2 separate regions of the Homo sapiens genome follow, and region 2 is linked to region 1. The links come from fine-mapping of genetic effects on gene expression. A gene starts in region 1. The other region holds a variant in brackets. All regions are shown on one strand. Distances are between the middles of the regions.

Evidence for each region. PIP is the estimated chance that this variant, and not a neighbour inherited with it, causes the effect.
Region 2: its variant is fine-mapped to the expression of RMND5A in whole blood (TOPMed, PIP above 0.99).

What each region holds. Positions count from the first base shown.
Region 1 is chr2:86,716,515-86,725,323 of GRCh38, reverse strand. It overlaps RMND5A (required for meiotic nuclear division 5 homolog A), which reads right to left and starts at 5,033. Exons shown (of 9, transcript NM_022780.4): 1 at 4,515-5,033. The coding sequence starts at 4,656. RNF103-CHMP3 (RNF103-CHMP3 readthrough) reads left to right here and starts at 4,202. Exons shown (of 8, transcript NM_001198954.1): 1 at 4,202-4,342. RefSeq lists enhancers at 1-341, 5,307-5,840 and silencers at 4,417-4,476, 4,955-5,113, 4,997-5,186.
Region 2 is chr2:86,750,307-86,759,115 of GRCh38, reverse strand. RMND5A (required for meiotic nuclear division 5 homolog A) reads right to left here. Exons shown (of 9, transcript NM_022780.4): 3 at 7,086-7,220; 4 at 5,558-5,658. Among named protein-coding and RNA genes, the nearest start is that of RNF103-CHMP3, 34 kb to the right of the region's middle. The variant G/A (reference allele first, on the strand shown) is at 4,040.

The DNA.
Region 1 (8,809 bases):
GAAAGATTTTTCAATGGGTGTCCTTTTTTATCATTTGAGTTTATACCATTTGAATGTACTATTCACTGGGTTATCTTTTTCATTGTTTGAATGGATACCATTTGAATGTATGACTTACTAAAAATTAATAAATAAATTTTAAATTTAGAAAATTCCTTGAAAGTCACTTTCAGAAACCACATTAGAACTCCGTTAGTCTAAAAATAATCAGAAAAGAATACTGCATGTCCTTTACTCTTACAAAAACTGCAATTTTCCCAAGTATACTTTTAAATGTGTCCTGAAACCATTACCAACTGTTTCTGCCTAATTTTCTTTCACAAAGTATGAGTGCAGAATACCAGCAAAACATGATAAATAGTTCTTTTCTGTTTTTCCCTTCCACCACAGAGGTGCTAATGGGAAACAATATAAATTTGCCAATAGGAAAAAAATGCTAAAAGGCATATACTCACAAATCAAATCACTAAAAGTTAACCATACAGTAGTTAACCCTGTTAAGCCAGGGTTATCCAAAGCACCGCTCCCATACCACTGATGCGAATGGTAATTTTAGCTAGTATGTAAACTAATATTTTAATTGTTATGAATTTATTTTAACATGTAGTTTATTATACCTAATACCTACATACCACATGTAGGACTACACAAATATCACTGCCTAAGATAAATCTACTTAAGTAAAATCGTGAATCCATCTGAAAAATAAGAGTGCACATGTGTATGAGTGAAGTTTTAGAAGCACCAGTGCACTATACAAATTAGATCGAGGCACACTGGGAATGACCACCAGCCTACATTAACCACAATGAACTTAGACCAAACTTCGTGCTCACAGGGAAACTCTCACTGAAAGGCTGGCACAACTAAATGACAGAAGCTGTGATCTCTATTCCTCTTACCTTGGACACCTCACTGCAGGCTCTGGATCACTCCCCACCCTCCTATCTACCACCCTAAGGTTTCTAATTCCAAAGGCATGAAGAGAAGTCTAGAGTCAGTCTCCAGGGAGAGGAATGTCTTGGCCTCGGCAGAGCTCTTCAGTATTCTCCCTGGTTCTTATTGCCTCTTCATGTTTCTATTACACCTATGTTGTCCCTGAACCACCAATATTCCCTAACTGTCTATGGCACCAAGTCGAAGCCTGCACTTCCCTCTCAGAGCCTTATATTCCATTATTGTTCTCTGCTGCAGGCCTGATACCAGTCCAACCCCATTTAAAAGAAAAAAAAAAAAAGATATTCCTGTTGTCAGGCTGACGGATTTGGCCAGAGGTGGATTAAATGGCAGAGCACAAACCAATTCACCAGGTATGAGAGACCAGCCCATACTATCCTCATTTCCCCAAGTGTATCTGCATTAAGAAACTTGCATTTTAAAAAAGATTAACGAGAGAAATTTTATGTAAAAGAATTTCAAGCTACTTAAAGGTGATTTAGACCACCTGAGAAATTTTAGGGCTCACTGCAGGACTATCTCCCAGCCAGCAATCAGGCAGTATTTACAATCTGGAATAAGGGTGCTGAGACTAGAAAAGGGTTGTCAATGGGCTTACTAACTAAACTCTTATTTATGTATGATCAGTTTCCATCACAAACTATCCTAACAGCTCATTTAGTATATAGCTGTCTGCTCACAACTTCAGAGATGAAAAAAAAATTTTAACATAAAACATTCATCCTCAGAAACTGAACCAATCCCTTTAGGTTGGCTAAAGGATGCTTCTGCAACAGTCATTCACCAGTATGATGCAATGATGTGTTCTATATAGTCCTCAAAAATTCTGTTTTATTCATACCAGATTCTTGCAAGTATTACCACAAGTAATCTCAGAGAATGAGGTCCAAAGTCCTGACAGAGGGGTCCCAATTAGAGCCTCTCAGGTTATCAGAATCATTTGCCCAGACAGGTATATTCAGAAGCCCAAAAATCTTCCCTTTAAACTTGAAAATAGAGTTCCAAACTCAGTTTTCAGTAAAATACCTTTGAGAAGGGCATATTTAAGTTTCAATGTAATATCTACCACATCACCTGCCGAGAACTTTAATTTAGAAATCATCTGTTTTCAAAAATACCATAGCCCAGATGCCAAAGCATGATGTTTATCTTTACACAAAAAAACACCAAAAGAAGAAAGATTTTATTTGGGAAACTAGACCTGGCACTTGTGGTATTTATTTTCTTTCATGTTTTATAACTACCTTTAGTCACTTAATCCTATTATTGAAGAATTAAAGGAAATCAAAGAGATACCAATATAAGACTAGCAATTTGGTAGACAAGAGGGAAAAAATTAGGAGGCTGAAAAGGGAACACACAAACTCACCAACTCAGACTGTTTTTAACAGCATAGCATACTGTGTGGCCAATACCCCTCAAACCATAAATTCTGAGAAAAGTTCCCTAGTACCCAGTGGAGAGTCAAAAACAAATTCCTGCCTCAGCAATTTCTCACCATCATTTTATCCATCTGAGCCTGGCCCTAAATTTTCTAAAACAAAGCTCACAATCACATCCCCCTTCAACTTACATCCTCTCTCATGGAAGAAAGGTACTTTCTGTTCCATCATTTTCCTCTCAAACTCTGCCTATGACCTGGTCCCTAAAAACGAAATGTTCCTTCCACCTCTCCAAGTCTAGGCCCTTCATTCTCTTCCTCCACTGGTTCCTTGGCAGGGCCGGGAGCACAGAGGGAATACCTCCCACCGCTGTACTGGATTTCCCACACCTCGGTTCACATCGAATTTTTCTTCTTAACCCCCAGTAATCTGGCTTGTCTTAGCAATTCTATGAAACTGCAAGCACAGAGGGTTACTGACTCCCAATAGCCAAATAAAAGCTGACCAATCTCTCCTTTTCTAAGTCCTCGCCCTTTTCGATTTCTGCTGGCTCTATCTAGCCTTGGCTCTCCACTCGCCAAGGAAAATTCAAGACTGTGGTTAGACTCTAGTCTTTCTTCTGTGCAATCTAAGTGATCCCCTCCACTGTCCTCCTAGAAATGACATCAGAAAACAATCTTAGACCTATGCATCTCCAGCCACCAGTAAATAGGAAAGCCCTCGATTCTATCTTCATTAAGCCCTTCAACCTTACTTCACATGTCCAAAACCAAATTCAAAGTCTTCCCAGGATTCCTGTCCCATTCCACCTTCACTTCCCTGTATCTACCAACTATATCATCATCGCCACGTCAGTCAAATTTCCCTTCACAGGCAGCCACCAAGGTCTGCTCGTTTTTCCATACTAGTATTGCAACTCCTATGAGAATTAATACGGTTTTTCCATATTAAAATCTCATCCACTATGACTGCAGGTTTGCTTCCTTCCTGGAGTTCAAAAATGACTGCAGTGTCCAGAATGAGAAGCTGCTGTAAGACTCCTTTCCCATGGACCAGCACCCATCCTCAACTGAAACGCAGTCTGGGAAAGTGTGAAAAAATGAAGGAGAAGGAGAGAGACACTCAGCTAACGCCACTGCCCTCATCTCACCTGCCACAAATAATCTGCATCTTCCCCCAGCTACCAAACCGTCCTTCACATAAATTTCTGTTCAGCCCACAAGCTGAAAAGCCCCCTCAGCCTCTTATTAAAGACCCATTAAATAAGTCCTTCACTTCTTGATCAAAAGGAATCATCGCTGTGACTTCTAAAGTGTAAGAAAACCAAACCTTTAAAAGTACCTGTCCTCAGGGCTTGGGGCAGTAAAAAAAAAAACAATCTAGGTGAAACACCTTCTATAGGAAAATTTATTTTTTTTGAACGAACTTAACCAGGCAAAGCAAGTAACTAGCAACATGTGCACAATTTACTTGGGCAAATGTCGCCCGTTCCTCCTCGGTGTCATCAGAAGGTACACTGGGAGAACAGAAGGGTTGAATTGAGCTGGTTTCCAAGGAACCATGTCAGAGCCGCTGCGGAGTTAAGAGCTGCGTCCACACAGCAGCCAAATCATGAAGTTGCAGGAGCGGCTGTTGTTAACCCACAGCTAAGAATAACGCTCGACTTTCCAAAATAAAACGAAGAAACGAAGTCCCCTGGCCAAGGATTCGGGGCGGCACAGAGGGGAAACGGAGCTTCCTGCACTGCCCTCATCACTCAGAACCTGGGGTCCCAGGCGATTCAGTCACCGCCCACAGAACAGCGCCGCGGGCACCACGTGAGACTCCCGGGGCCGGCTGGGAGCGGGGGACGAGGGGCGCCCACTCGGGGGTCGGCAGTTTGCAGGTGCGATGGGCGGCCCCCTCACCCACGTTTATCCGGACTGGAGCCCGCCGCTCCCGGCTGGGTTTCCGGGTGGTTCGCGCTCCTTCTGAATTGGCAGCGAGGTCGCGGCAGGTTCGAGGTAAATCGGACGAAGAGGGGAAAAAGTCTCAGGGGTCTGGGGGCCTCCGCGCCTCAGGGGAGGCAAGGGCCGGGCCAGAGGCGCGAGGGTGGGTGAGGGATTCCCGCCGCGGGGCCGGGACCGGGGCTCGGGCAGTGGGCCATGCCCCGCGCGCCCACGCGGGCCGCCCTACCGTGGCTCTGCAGGATCTCGTGCTTGAGGCCGCCGGTGTAGTCGATGAGCTCCTCCAGGCCGCGCTCGCACAGCTGCCCGTAGCCTGAGAACTTGTGCAGCACCTTCTCCAGCTCGCGCTCCACCGTCACGCACTGATCCATGCCGGAGGCGGCGGCGCTCGGCTCCTCGGCGCCCAGGTGTCCGCAGCCGTTCGGCCCGGGCCCCACCGAGGCCGCGTCCTGCTCCTCGTTCCCCAAGCGGGCGGCGCGGGAGGCTGAGGCGGCCGAGGCGGCGGGCGCACTAGCCGCGGCGCCGGGGGAGCCCCGCGCAGCCGGAGCCCGCCTGCCCCATGGCGCCCTAGCCCCCCGGCGAGTCGCCGCTGCTCCCGTTCGCTCGCTGCACTCGGCTCCGCGTCCCCAGGCCCCGCTCGCGACGTTCGGGTGCCTGCGACGGCGCGGCCGATTGTTTTTGTTTTCACGGGAACCGACCGATGACCTGGTTCTCCCGGGCGGCACCAAGCGCCGCCGACTGGGGGGAGGGGGATGGCCACCCGGGCGAGGAAAGGAGGCGGCGCGGGCCGTACCAAGTACACCCTCGGGGTGGGGGGTGCGACCCGGCGAGAACGGGCGGAGGAACGCGACGGGCGCCCACACGCGCCGCCACTCTAATGGTGTGGGCCGTACCACACGGAAGGCGTGCGAGGGAGAGGGCGAGGGTGGAGCGAGGCCCCAATTGGCCTGAGGAGCTAAATAGGGAACTTTGGAGACAGCCCCAGCGCTCGGAGAGCGCAACAACTACGCGCTCCATAAACAAGGAGGCGGAAACCGGCCCTCACCACTCCGCCCAGAAGCGGGGAACCCCAACCAATGGGCGCGGGGAGTGGTAAGAAGCCAATCCCTGGCCGAGGCGTAAGCCTTCAGCCAATCCGGGCTGAGGGGCCAAACCAACGGGCTCGCTGTTGGAGGGGGTGACTTGGAGAGCGTACCGAGAAACGAGTAGTTTATGGAAAGCCTTGGGGGAAAACTAGACAAAAATACAAAAGGCTGTTTTCCATAGGACGTCGCCCTGATCCCAATTTATTTCGTCTCCTCATCGATCTTAAGGGAAAGGGGTACCGTCATTCCGAACTTTTGGGCGACGGATCCATCTCCCGGGAATGAAAAACCAAGCCAGGCCGCCCGGGGGCTGGTTCTGCGTCGGCGGGGGGTCCCTAATGGGAATTAAAGGCGGGGGTGATTGGGCCCGGGTGAGGGGAGCCGCTTGCTGCTCGCGAAAGGCCCGCGCCGGCTGTCAGCGCTGCCCCGGGCTTGCGACACCCAGGAGGTCATGTCCCCATCCCCCGCGGACCGTGGCCCTTTGGCCCCTTGGCCTGGAACCTCTCCTGACGGTGGCCTCGCCCCAGAGCCATGTGCCGGGCAGCTTAGCCGGGTGGAAAGAACACGCGCTGGAGAGCCGGGCAGCCTGGCCCTTGCTCCCTAGGAAGCCTTATGCTATCGGATCGGATCGGCTTTACCCCCTCGGGTAAATCCTTCCCATCGCTTGCTATGGCGTCTGCAGCCTTGGCCTAGACCTCCTTGATCAGCATCGGCTGCACTACCTTTGCATTTCTTCAGGAGCCCAGCTAGTTCGTGCCTCAGGGCCTCTGCACTTGCCCTTTCCTTGGCCCAGAAAACTCTTCCTCCTACCTTTTTCATCCTGAAGTTCTTCTCAGCTCACTTGTCCCCTTACAGGGTCCTCCCCTGGCTGACCACACTAATGTACTTCCTCCCCACCGTTAATACCATAACACATTTTATTATTTCCACACCACTTAAACTCTGAAATGATCTGATGTTTTATTTTTCTGTCTGCACCACTTACATAAAACCATGACGGCAGGCCCCCTGCTTGTCTAAATTTTTTGCCTAGAACAGCCCCTGGCGTGAGGTGGTAGGCAATTCTTTTTCTTAAATTAACGTGATAACGTTTTTGAGCCTTAACTTCCGTATAACTGAGAAATAATTGGAATTAATACTTAACTAAATTGTTAGATAAAGGAGAATATATGTAAATACCCATAATAGGCTCATGATAACCACATGATAAAGGTGGTAGTAGTCATTATTAGGGCAGCCCCAACTGGTATTATTTCAGATCTCCCTTCTCCCCACCCCATTTTTCTTCCCTCTTGGCAGATGTCTCTGATTCTTCACTGAGATTAAAAAAAAAAAAAAAATCTAGCTCCAGCAACTTCTATCACTCTTCTCCAAGTATTGCTGTGTACCACCCATTTTGTGAACATTCTCATGTACCCAAAGGACCAGGAGTCCCTTCTCCCTTTCCAAGACAGCCGTTGGGGCCTGCGGGCTGCCTCTCACCCCTGTCCAGATCTTCCCCCTCTTTCTCTGCAGTAGGTTCTTCCTTTCTACTTTCAGCCCAAATGGGTTTGACCTACCTGGGGGAGGAAACTTAATTTAACCCTCCTCAAGCACTCATTTCTTTCACTGCCAAACTGCCTAGACAAATCTATGTTTATTCCTCCCTTTTCTTCAAGGATCTCCTTGATAAGCTCAGTCACCCTTTTCTCAGTCTTTTTTTTTTCTTCTCCTTCAAAGGGTTGTTATAGTATGAAATATTCCATTTAAGGCACTCAACAAAATGCCTGGCACAAGGTAAGAGCCATGATAATCCACTGATCACAAATAATCAATGACTCCTCATTACCTACAGCTTCAGATCCTCTCTCAAGGACATGGTCTGCCCTGTGTAGCAACACAGCACAAACCCCTATCCAGGCATGAAGCACTTTCCCACCCTTAGTGTGACTTGAGTACAGCCCATTCATACTTTGCCTTCTTCTGGGACACTTTTCTTTATTCTGTTTTTCGAATCCTCCCTTTCTTCAAGTAACAAGACAAGTCTTACTTTAACTAGTGACACCTTCTAGAACCTAGTCCTGCACTCTTCAATACCATAATCACCAGCCACAAGCAGGTTTTTTTGTTTGTTTGTTTTTTTGTTTTTTTGTTTTGAGATGGAGTCTTACTCTGTCACCAAGGCTGGAGTGCAGTGGTGGGATCTCGGCTGACTGCAACCTCTGCCTCCCGGGTTCAAGTGATTCTCCTACCTCAGCCTCCTGAGCAGCTGGGACTACAGGCACACACCACCACGCCCAGCTAATTTTTGTATTTTTGGTAGAGACAGGGTTTCACCATATTGGCCTGGCTGGTCTCAAACTCCTGGCCTCGTGATCCACCCGCCTCAGCCTCCCAAAGTGCTGGGATTTATAGGCGTGAGCCACCGCACCCGACCCACGTGTAGCTATTTAAATTGAAATATAAGCTAGATAATTTAAAATTTAGTTCCCCAATTGTGCTAACCACATATCAAATAATAACCACATGTAGCTGGTGGCTACTGTATTAATCAGCGCAAAATAAATATTTCCATCACTGTAGAAAAGTTTTGTTGGACAGTGCTGATCTAGACCATGACCACAGTAAAGTTACCAGCCCTACCTTTAACTGCTGTAAGACCTCTGTGTAAGTCATTTCATGCCTTAGTGCATACTGCCCCCATATTTTTAGTTAACTTTTCCAACATGTGCCTTTTTGACTCAACTAGACTATCAGTTTTCAGATCTGGGCTGACTTCTTTTTATCTCCCATGATTTAATCAGCATGAAAAAAAGTGTTTGTTAAAGGAAAAAGAATACGCAGATTAGAGGAGAAGAGGCTTCAGAGTTAGCTGGGAGAGAAAAATAGTACTTGTAAGGGCAGAGATTTATGTTGCTTCTTCACTTTGTATTGGCCCTTTCTACACAGTGCCTAATTGCCTTAAGCCTAAACTGTGAATTGTCAAAGAAGCACCTCTAGAAACAACAGGGAAAGAAATTTAGTTTTCAGAGCAACTGCAAATTAGTTTTTTTTTTTTTTTTTTTTTTTTTTTTTGAGCCAGCGTCTCGATCTGTCGCCCAGGCTGGAGTGCAGTGGCGCGATCTCGGCTCTCTGCAAGCTCCGCCTCCTGGGTTCACGCCATTCTCCTGCCTCAGCCTCCCGAGTAGCTGGGACTACAGGCGCCCGCCACCACACCCAGCTAATCTTTTTTTGTATTTTTACTAGAGACGGGGTTTCACTGTGTTAGCCAGGATGATCTCGATCTCCTGACCCCGTGATCCACGCGCCTCGGCCTCCCAAAGTGCTGGGATTACAGGCATGAGCCACCGCGCGCCGCGCAAATTAGTTTTCTATAATTGCATTTTCACCACACAATAAGGAAGAACACACACACACACACACACACACACAAAATCCCACTTTAGTATCAAGTGGACTC
Region 2 (8,809 bases), 34 kb before region 1:
GTCTATTTCTAGTAATACTAGGGAAAAAAAGCCTCTTGCCAATCCCACAGCACATTCCACTGTAACCTTTCACAGCATTTAAAGGCTTACAAAAACCTCTTTTTCTAATTTCCTTTAAGGCTATACTCTTGGGGGTAAAAGCTGAAGTTCAGGGGAATGAATGACATTGATTTTTACTCCACAGGTGTGGACCTGGTGAAATGTCCTTAGTAACATGAATCAAATGCTTAAAAAAATTCAGAGAATGGCAAACCTGACAAAAAGTTCAGTCAAAAAAGTGAGGAACTCTGTAACTTTGCTTTAGAGACTGAAAAGAACACTCAGTGTTTCATTTCTTAGATATTTTCAAATGGTAATTTTTCAGCTATGGGCTGAGTCCACTGCTGGAACTACTACCATTAAACTCATCTCAGAGTTGGTGTGAGTCTCTGTCCTTTTCACATGCTATTTAAGAAACCACACAAACTATGGTATTGCATATCTGACTCTATTTAAGACACACACACACACCCTTTTACATGAGGTTCTCAGTAATGCAGAGATTAGTAAGAGCTACACATAGGAGTGGTCACCATATTGGACAACATATCTAGCAGGCATGCTCAAAATAATGTGCAACGGATATTCAATGCTGCATCACTTATAAAGCAAAATATCGGAAACTACAAACGTCCATCCATAGGAACTGGCTAAATAAAATTAAGGTATAATCCCTAAAAGAGAACACTAAGCAGCCACCAAAAAAAAAAAATAGTTCTATATGCTCTGATATAGGCAAATACTTCAAAATTTTTCAAGTAAAAAGCAGAACACTGTGTATAGTATGCAACCACTTGTGCATAAAAATGTACGTATACATAATACAGTTAATGGTGGCTGCCTGTTTGGAGAGTAACTGTGATTAGAAGGCAAAGGTGGGGAGATTTACTTTTCACTGTATTTTTATCTTGTTGTGCCTTTTGATTTTGTACTCTTATTTATTACCTATTGGGATACTTAATGCTGACTCAAAACTCGACCAAGGCAAGCCAAGGACAATTTTGAGAAAAGGAGTCAGTGAATGAAGTCTGAACTGCCCAACGGCTCTGCAACACAACCTCCATGGTGGACATAATGGCATCAGGACATTTTAGCCTGAGAACTTTGAACATTTTCTAGAACAATCTCCTCTTGTTCCAACTCCAGGCTTTGCAAGCTCATGTGCCTTCCACATGGACCTGCCTACCACAAGCTTGTTTCACAGCCCCTAATAATCCAAACTATGTACGCAGCTTAGCAATTCAGGTTTTTATCGTTTTTAAAGGCCTGTTCTTAGTGAAAACAAAACAAAATAAGGACACCAAAAACAAGTTTCCAAGTCTGCAAAGCTGAAAGTCAGATACTAGACTGTGGCAAATCCAGCAAGGTAGTATTACTCTTTGAGACACGTTTAGGAAGGCAACCAAGTAGCTTCCCCTAAAGATAGTGCTTTCTTTCAATATGTATGTTAATAATGGCATAGCTACAAGGACAGTTCCTATTTTTTCTAATATTTCCCCCACCTCGTTGTATTAAGTTACTATTCTCTCGTTAACACTATTTTTGGCTTTCTATCTGCCACCATGGAAGAGGATGACAAGTTTGCTCTAAATTCTCCTGCAGATTACTGTTATTCATTGAGGGCCTACTATGAGGTAAGCACTACTCTAGGCGCCAAGAGAAATTCAAAAAGCAAATAAAACAATCTGGGTGAGCATAAAAGAAATCTGGATGAGGGGGAAAATCTGTACAAACTCAGAGGTACAAGGGCACGGAACACAGGAGCAGGCAAGGTCCTGATTAGATCTATGTAATCAGGTGTTGTTCTGCCACTTCTCTCCACAATATCACCATTCCCCTAGGCCCTCAATGGCCTTTAGCCACCTCCACTTTTTTTTTTTTTTTTTTTTTTTTTTTTTTTTTGAGACTGAGTTTCACTCTTGTTGCCCAGGCTGGAGTGCAGTGGCGCGATCTTGGCTCACCGCAACCTCCGCCTCCCGGGTTCAAGCGATTCTCCTGCCTCAGCCTTCCTGAGTAGCTGGGATTACAGGCATGCGCCACCATACCTGGCTAATTTTGTATTTTTAATAGAGATGGGGTTTCTCCACGTTGGTCAGGCTCGTCTTGAACTCCTGACCTCAGATGATTCGCCCGCCTTGGCCTCCCAAAGTGCTGGGATTACAGGCATGAGCCACCGTGCCCGGCCTAGCCACCTCAAATTTTTGGCTGGCCTCTGCCTTCTCACCGCATAGGCAGTCTGGAGGAATTGCTGCATCCTCTCCTTCCTCTTTTCCCTTGTGAGCTCCATGATATCCTTCCCAGCAGGAACAAATGGGATGCTGCATAACTGGCAGATATCTCCCGCCTTGTACCTTAACTAGAATTCCCCAAATTGGAGTCCCATATCATTCAACTTTTGCTGTAAGTTGAGTAAAGGGAATTTTCTGTACCTAGCTCATGAAAGATGCTTAGTCAGTATCTGCTCTGCACCCACAATAGGCAAGAATTGGAAAAATCTGAATTGTTGTAATGACGATTTCTATTAAATCTTATGTTTTGTATAACTCCAATTTTATGGGTTTTAAATGTGTTATCTGGAGGGAAAACAAGATTGGTCAAATACACAGAGAAAACACTGGGTTATACCAAGTTAAATGAGTTTCTTTACTGTAGGATTACTGATGGTACGTTTTTACTTCTATTTATTTTCTTATTTTTTGAGACAGGATTCGGCTCTGGAGTGGTGGTGTGGTCTTGGTTCACTGCAGACTCCGCCTCCTGGGCTCAAGTGATCCTCCCATTTCAGCCTCCTGAGTAGTTCAGACTACAGGCGTACACCACCATACCCAGCTAATTTTTCTATTTTTTTGTAGAGATAGGGTTTTGCTATGTTGCCCAGGCTGGTCTCGAACTCCTGGGCTCAAGCGATCTGCCCACCTCAGCTTCCCAAAGTGCTGGGCTTACAGGTGTGAGCCACTGCACCTGGCTTGATGATACACTTAATAAGTTAAAATGAACCTCAAATGAGAATACTGGGGGACTATTATGTAAAGCATTTCTCATATAATCTTTTGACTTTTTTTCACAGAGGATCTTCTAGGCCCTAATTGCTTCTCTGTAAGATGACTTACCTCATAGGTTAATATGAGGGTTGAATAGGTTAAGACACGTAAAATGCTTAGAACGATGCTAGGCATACAATAACCACTCAAGCAGAGTTAACTATGATTACCACTACATTCCCTCATGCTGATATTAAACACTACTCCCAGAAACATGAAATGAGAAAATTTTTACTTATGGAACAAGTCCTCTCTCTGCCTGAGAGGAATTGTTTTAAGGCAACAAATAATAGACAAAATTTACAGAAATAATCAATATACATAACATGCTTATCAATAAGAAACATATCTTATATACGCACAAAGTTTAAAAGGCTCTTAGGAGAAAAGTCTGGAGTACTCTGAAGGCTAAGGTAGCAAATACTATGTGCCAGTGACTACAGATATAGTCATAGTACGTACATGACTAGCACATATGAACAAAGTTTAATGAAAAAACCTAAGAAACGCATAGATAAGTGAATATTACCTTGAATAACAACCCAAATATTATTTGCTAATCACTATAAAACAACTGGGAAACCCATTACATGTTCATATATGTATGTAGGCTTTCTCGGGCACATTGGCCCATGCCTATAATCCCAGTACTTCGGGCAGCTGACGCTCCAGGAGGATCACTTGAGGCCAGAAGTTTGAGACCAGCCTGAGCGACATAGAGAAATCCTGTCTCTATAAAATATTTAAAAATTAGCCAGGTGTGGTGGTGTGCACCTGTAGTCTTAGCTACTCAGGAGGCCGGGGCAGGAGGATTACTTAAGCCCAGGAGTTTGAGAGTGTGCAGTGAGCTATGATCATCCCACTGCACTCTAGCCTGGGCCACAGAGCAAGACTCTGTCTCTTTGGGAAAAAAAAAAAAAAAAGTAGTTGTTGCCATATTTTGTTTAAGAGGTGTTAGA[G/A]GTATTTGGTTGAATTTATCTCCCAGATGTGTCACAATCTGAAATTTGCTTAAACAAATTCTACAAAGGTAATATGCATCTTACACAGAGATACAGTTCTTAAGTGAGATCTATTATAATTTATACAAGAATTTTATATAAATTTATACAGGAATTTCTGTCTAGTCATCTGGGCTGGTTTTAGAACTACACAAAATTTTCTCAGAACTGAGAAATGGCCAAGTACAGAGGCTCAAGTCTGTAATTCCAGCACTTTGGGAAGCCGAGGTGGGAGAATCACTTGAGCTCAGGAGTTCGAAACCAGCCTGGGTAACATAGTGAGATCCTGTCTCTACAAAAAAAAATTTTTTTTAATTAGCTGGGCATAACGGCACAGTCCTGTAGTCCCAACTACTCAGGAGGCTAAGGCGGGAGGTTGGGGGGTTGGGGCTGGAGTGAGCCATGATTATGCCACTGCACTCTAGCCTGGGTGACAGTGAGACCCTGTCTCAAAAAGGAGAAAGAACTGAGAAATGATTAGAAAGAAAAAACTAAGCTATGAAGAATTAAATGGGTTAGTGGAACTAAATTTTAAGGGAAAAAGTGTACATTTTATAAAAGTCAACTTCCCAGCTAACCCTGTAACACTGATGGTTAATTTTTCTGGTTTTAAAATACCAGGATTCCAAAGCTATAAGCTCACAACAAATCACTGCTTCTATAATCCAGTTTCTTCCCTTTATTTTATGAGCTATTTATTACAAATAACCTGGTAATCCTCACAGTAAAAAATTTTAGGACTGGGGCCAGCAAACTATGGCACAGGCCACATACAGCTTGCTGCCTGTTTTGTATAGCAGATGGCCAAGAATGGGTTTTTAAATTTTTAAAGGGTTGTAAAATAAAATGAAGAATATGCGACAGAGACCTTATGTGAAATGAAAAGCCTAAAATATTTCCTACTTGGTCCTTTATGGAAAAGCTTGCTGACCCTGCTCTAGAATAATATTTATTATAGCTTACAGAGTAATTTCAGACAATTCTTATCAATGAGAGGTTCATGGTCAATTACCAAAATCCACAGTAATTAAGAATAGAGTAGCTTTATAAAAATATTTGTTCTCTTCATCCACACCACCTAGTTCCAATAACCAATAATTTCTTAGAATGCTAGCATAAAACCCAGCAAAACCCAGCACATGAAGGAAGCTTAAATATCAAACTTGCACTGGCTGAACAATAGTGCTTGTTGTAATGTCAGCCCACACAAAGTGGTGGTGTAGCCTGGAAACAGAAAACCCTTTTCTCTCATGGGAATTCAGACCAACTGATAAGTGAAATAAGCTCCAACCATTTTCTCATATTGCACACCCCCCATATTTCACTTAGCCAAAATAAATAAAATAATTCTCCTTTGATTTCTCTGAAGTCTACCACAGGTAAGATAAATATATCTAAAAATCTCTAATGTGTTTTCTGATTGAGTTTTCTTACAGAGAGTTCTCAAAGTACTCAAAAGAAAGCAAACTCAATACTCACTCCAGAGCAGGTCTCAGAACTCTGACCTTTAATGCCTCTAATATTCTATTTAACTCCACAAATGGTTCCTTCTGACTTGGGTCTACAGAAAGACCAGATTCCTGGAAAAAGAAAGAAAGAAAGAACTTTTGTTAGCAGTAATCAGGGTAAGGAGCTAGTGGTAAAAGTATATTCTAGATTGTAAAATATGGGGCAAGCCATTAAAGATAATTCCCTATAGTAGAGACTGATGACTGCCCCCTAGTACATTCTTCCCCTCTTTTCCATAGTAGAATCCCCAAATTTCAGCAGGGTACATAAGCAAATGGAATAAAGCTGGGTATGGCTTTGTAAGACGTTAAGTTCTGACCAATGAAACATAAATATGCACTCTGCCCCTTTCTGGGATACAAAGGTATGGCTGGAGCTTTGGCTGCTATCCTGGACTCTGAAGACAGGAGACACCCTGGGAATAACAGAGGTACAAGGTGCTAAGTCCCTAAGAGTTTCACAATGCAGAGCTACCAAACATGCTGTGGACGTCTTACTACCGATTTCTGTGCAAGAAAAAAATTTCACTTTTGCTTAAGCCACTGTAATTGTGGGTCTTTTGTTACTTAAAAGCAAACAATCCTCAATGACAGTTTACTGCAGGAAATTACATGGACACATACACAAAATCCCTGTAAGGTACAGAGAAAAACCGAGTTATCATTTATCTGAATTGTTTAAAATAGAAAAGGCTTAGATTAGAGGTTTGGTTTACAGACTGATTTTAAACTAATTCTTTCGGTCCTTCATGTTTCCAAACAAAAATGCAACAGCACATGGTGGCTTAGAACGGAGTGTGAAGACATATGAATCAGGGACTGAATCCCAGTTCTTTCACAAAGAACCTGTTAAGGCCTCGGGCAACTTACTTCTCCAGACCTTAGATTTTTCATCTGTAGAATGGAAACAATAATTTTTACTTCATGGGATTGCAGCAAGGAATAAAGGCAGGGCTTGGCTTAAGGTAAGCACTCAATATATGGCAGCTACTACTATTATGACTACATGGTATTGGTAAACTGTTGTAGAGTTCTAACTCATGTGTGATAGAAATAAAAGACAAATGCTGCTAATGCGAAGTAAAAAATTTTAGCTGGAAATTCATTTGATAAAATCGTTTAAGCTGGGCTAGAACAGAAGAACAAACATCAATGTTTTTGTCCCTTTCCTCTTGTCTGCTATACTAACCTTCTATATCAAAAATGGACATGAAGAAAGAATATCGCTTTTGCGCCCTTTGATTCATGAACTGGGACTAACCTTCTGGGACAGGAACAAGAAAAAAATGATCTGGATAACAAGTTCTAGAACTATAATTTTTGCCACTTAAAAAATTCCCCAAAATACTCCTAGTAAAATGAGGTCATCTCTGATAATTTAAATATTAAAAATCTATCTATAGCTAGAGGAAGACTCAAAACCCCACCCTGCAAATACTATAAACTCCAAGGAGTTCCCTTGTTTCTTTTTCATATCCTCCCAGTTGGCACACTGTTACCTGACAGAGCTCCTCAGCCACATCCAGCATTCCTTGTCGAAAGAAGTGCTCCACCATCACCTCATTGAGAAGCCTTTGGCTGTCTGCCTGCCAGCAGCCATCTATTCCCACACTGCTAATGTCAGAATCAAAATTCTGGGGAAAAGAAAGAGAAAGGGAATCATAAATAGATTATTTTCACCCCACTTAACAGGAAAAAAATGGTCTTTGTTTCAGTCTGAGATACCCCAATAAGAACCCAACTGCAATTTATAGCGTCCCAAAGGAAGGAATTTTTCCACTGCTCCTTTCTAAAACTTGTCATGCTAGAAGAGTAAATAGGTATATTTTTAGATAATGTTTTTTTAAAGTAGATTTAATAATGGTGTCCATGAATAAAATAAAATCAAGCGAATGAACTGATTTCTAGGCATTATATGCAGCAATATTTTTAGAGGAATGCAATGATGACCTGTAAAAGCATGCCCACTGCAGCACTGTCTATAATGGGAGGGGAAAAAAGGAGAAAACACATATGCCTATCAACATAATAATCCATGGCACATCCCAACAACTGCAGTATTGAGGCTGAAAGTGGTTGTGGGGGCATGGCCAACTAGTTAAGAGAGTGGTTTATCTACACCTCTGGGTTTGCCTTTGAGCTATACATGCATGGTCCTGACTCTAAACAGCATACTACAGATTTTGAAAACTGAACTAGGGAATAGACCTAATTCCTAGGTCCCATATTGGCTACCAGGTGTTACACACACAGGACAAATCTAAATAACTGTAATGGCTTTAGAAACAAAACTAACACTGAAACTACAACCCAGAAAAGACTGGTTAGAACTTGTGGCCTGAATCCAACAAGGTTGATTGCCTGCTAAAACAAAAATACCAACACTCTCCACAGAACTTAAACAAGACCCAGAGTACTATAATACATATTCAAAATGTTCAAGATACTGCAAAATTACTTGGCATACAAAGAACCAAGAAAATCTCAACTCACATGGAAAAAGATGATCAACAGACACCAATGCCAACATGACAGAGATGCTGGAACCATCCAAAACTTTAGGGCAGTTATTATAAAAATACAAACAATCTTGAAACAAAGGGAGAGACTTAGCAAGGAAAAAGCTGATAGAGTAACCAAAATAAAAAATTCATTGGATGAATTTTTCAACAGCAGAAGCAAAGTGGCAGTGCAAAAAGTCAGTGAAAATCAATAGAATTCATCCAATCTGAACACCAGTTTAAAAAAAAAAAAAAAACAGAGCCTCAGGGACCTGTGGGAAAATTACAAAAGCTCTAACGTGTGTGTCATCGGAATACTAGGAGAAGAGAAACAGTATGGTACAGAAAAAAATAGTTGAAGAGTATTTCCCAAGTTTAGCAAAAGACATAAATCTCAGATTCTAGAAGGTCAGTGAACTCCAACATGGACAAATTCAAAGAAATCTGACCCAAACATCTCACATTCAAACTGTTAAAACTAAAGATAAAGCAAAAAATCTTGCAGGCAGCCAGAGAAAAGTGACATGTTACTTACAGGGGAACCATGATTCAAATGACTACAGATTTCTCAACAGAAACTATGGAGGCCAGAAAGAAGTGGCATGACATTTGTCAAGTACTGAAAGAAAATAACTGTCATCCTAGAATTCTATATCCAGTGAAAATATCCTTCAGGAATGAAGATGAAATAAAGACATTCTCAGACGGAGGGAAACTGAATT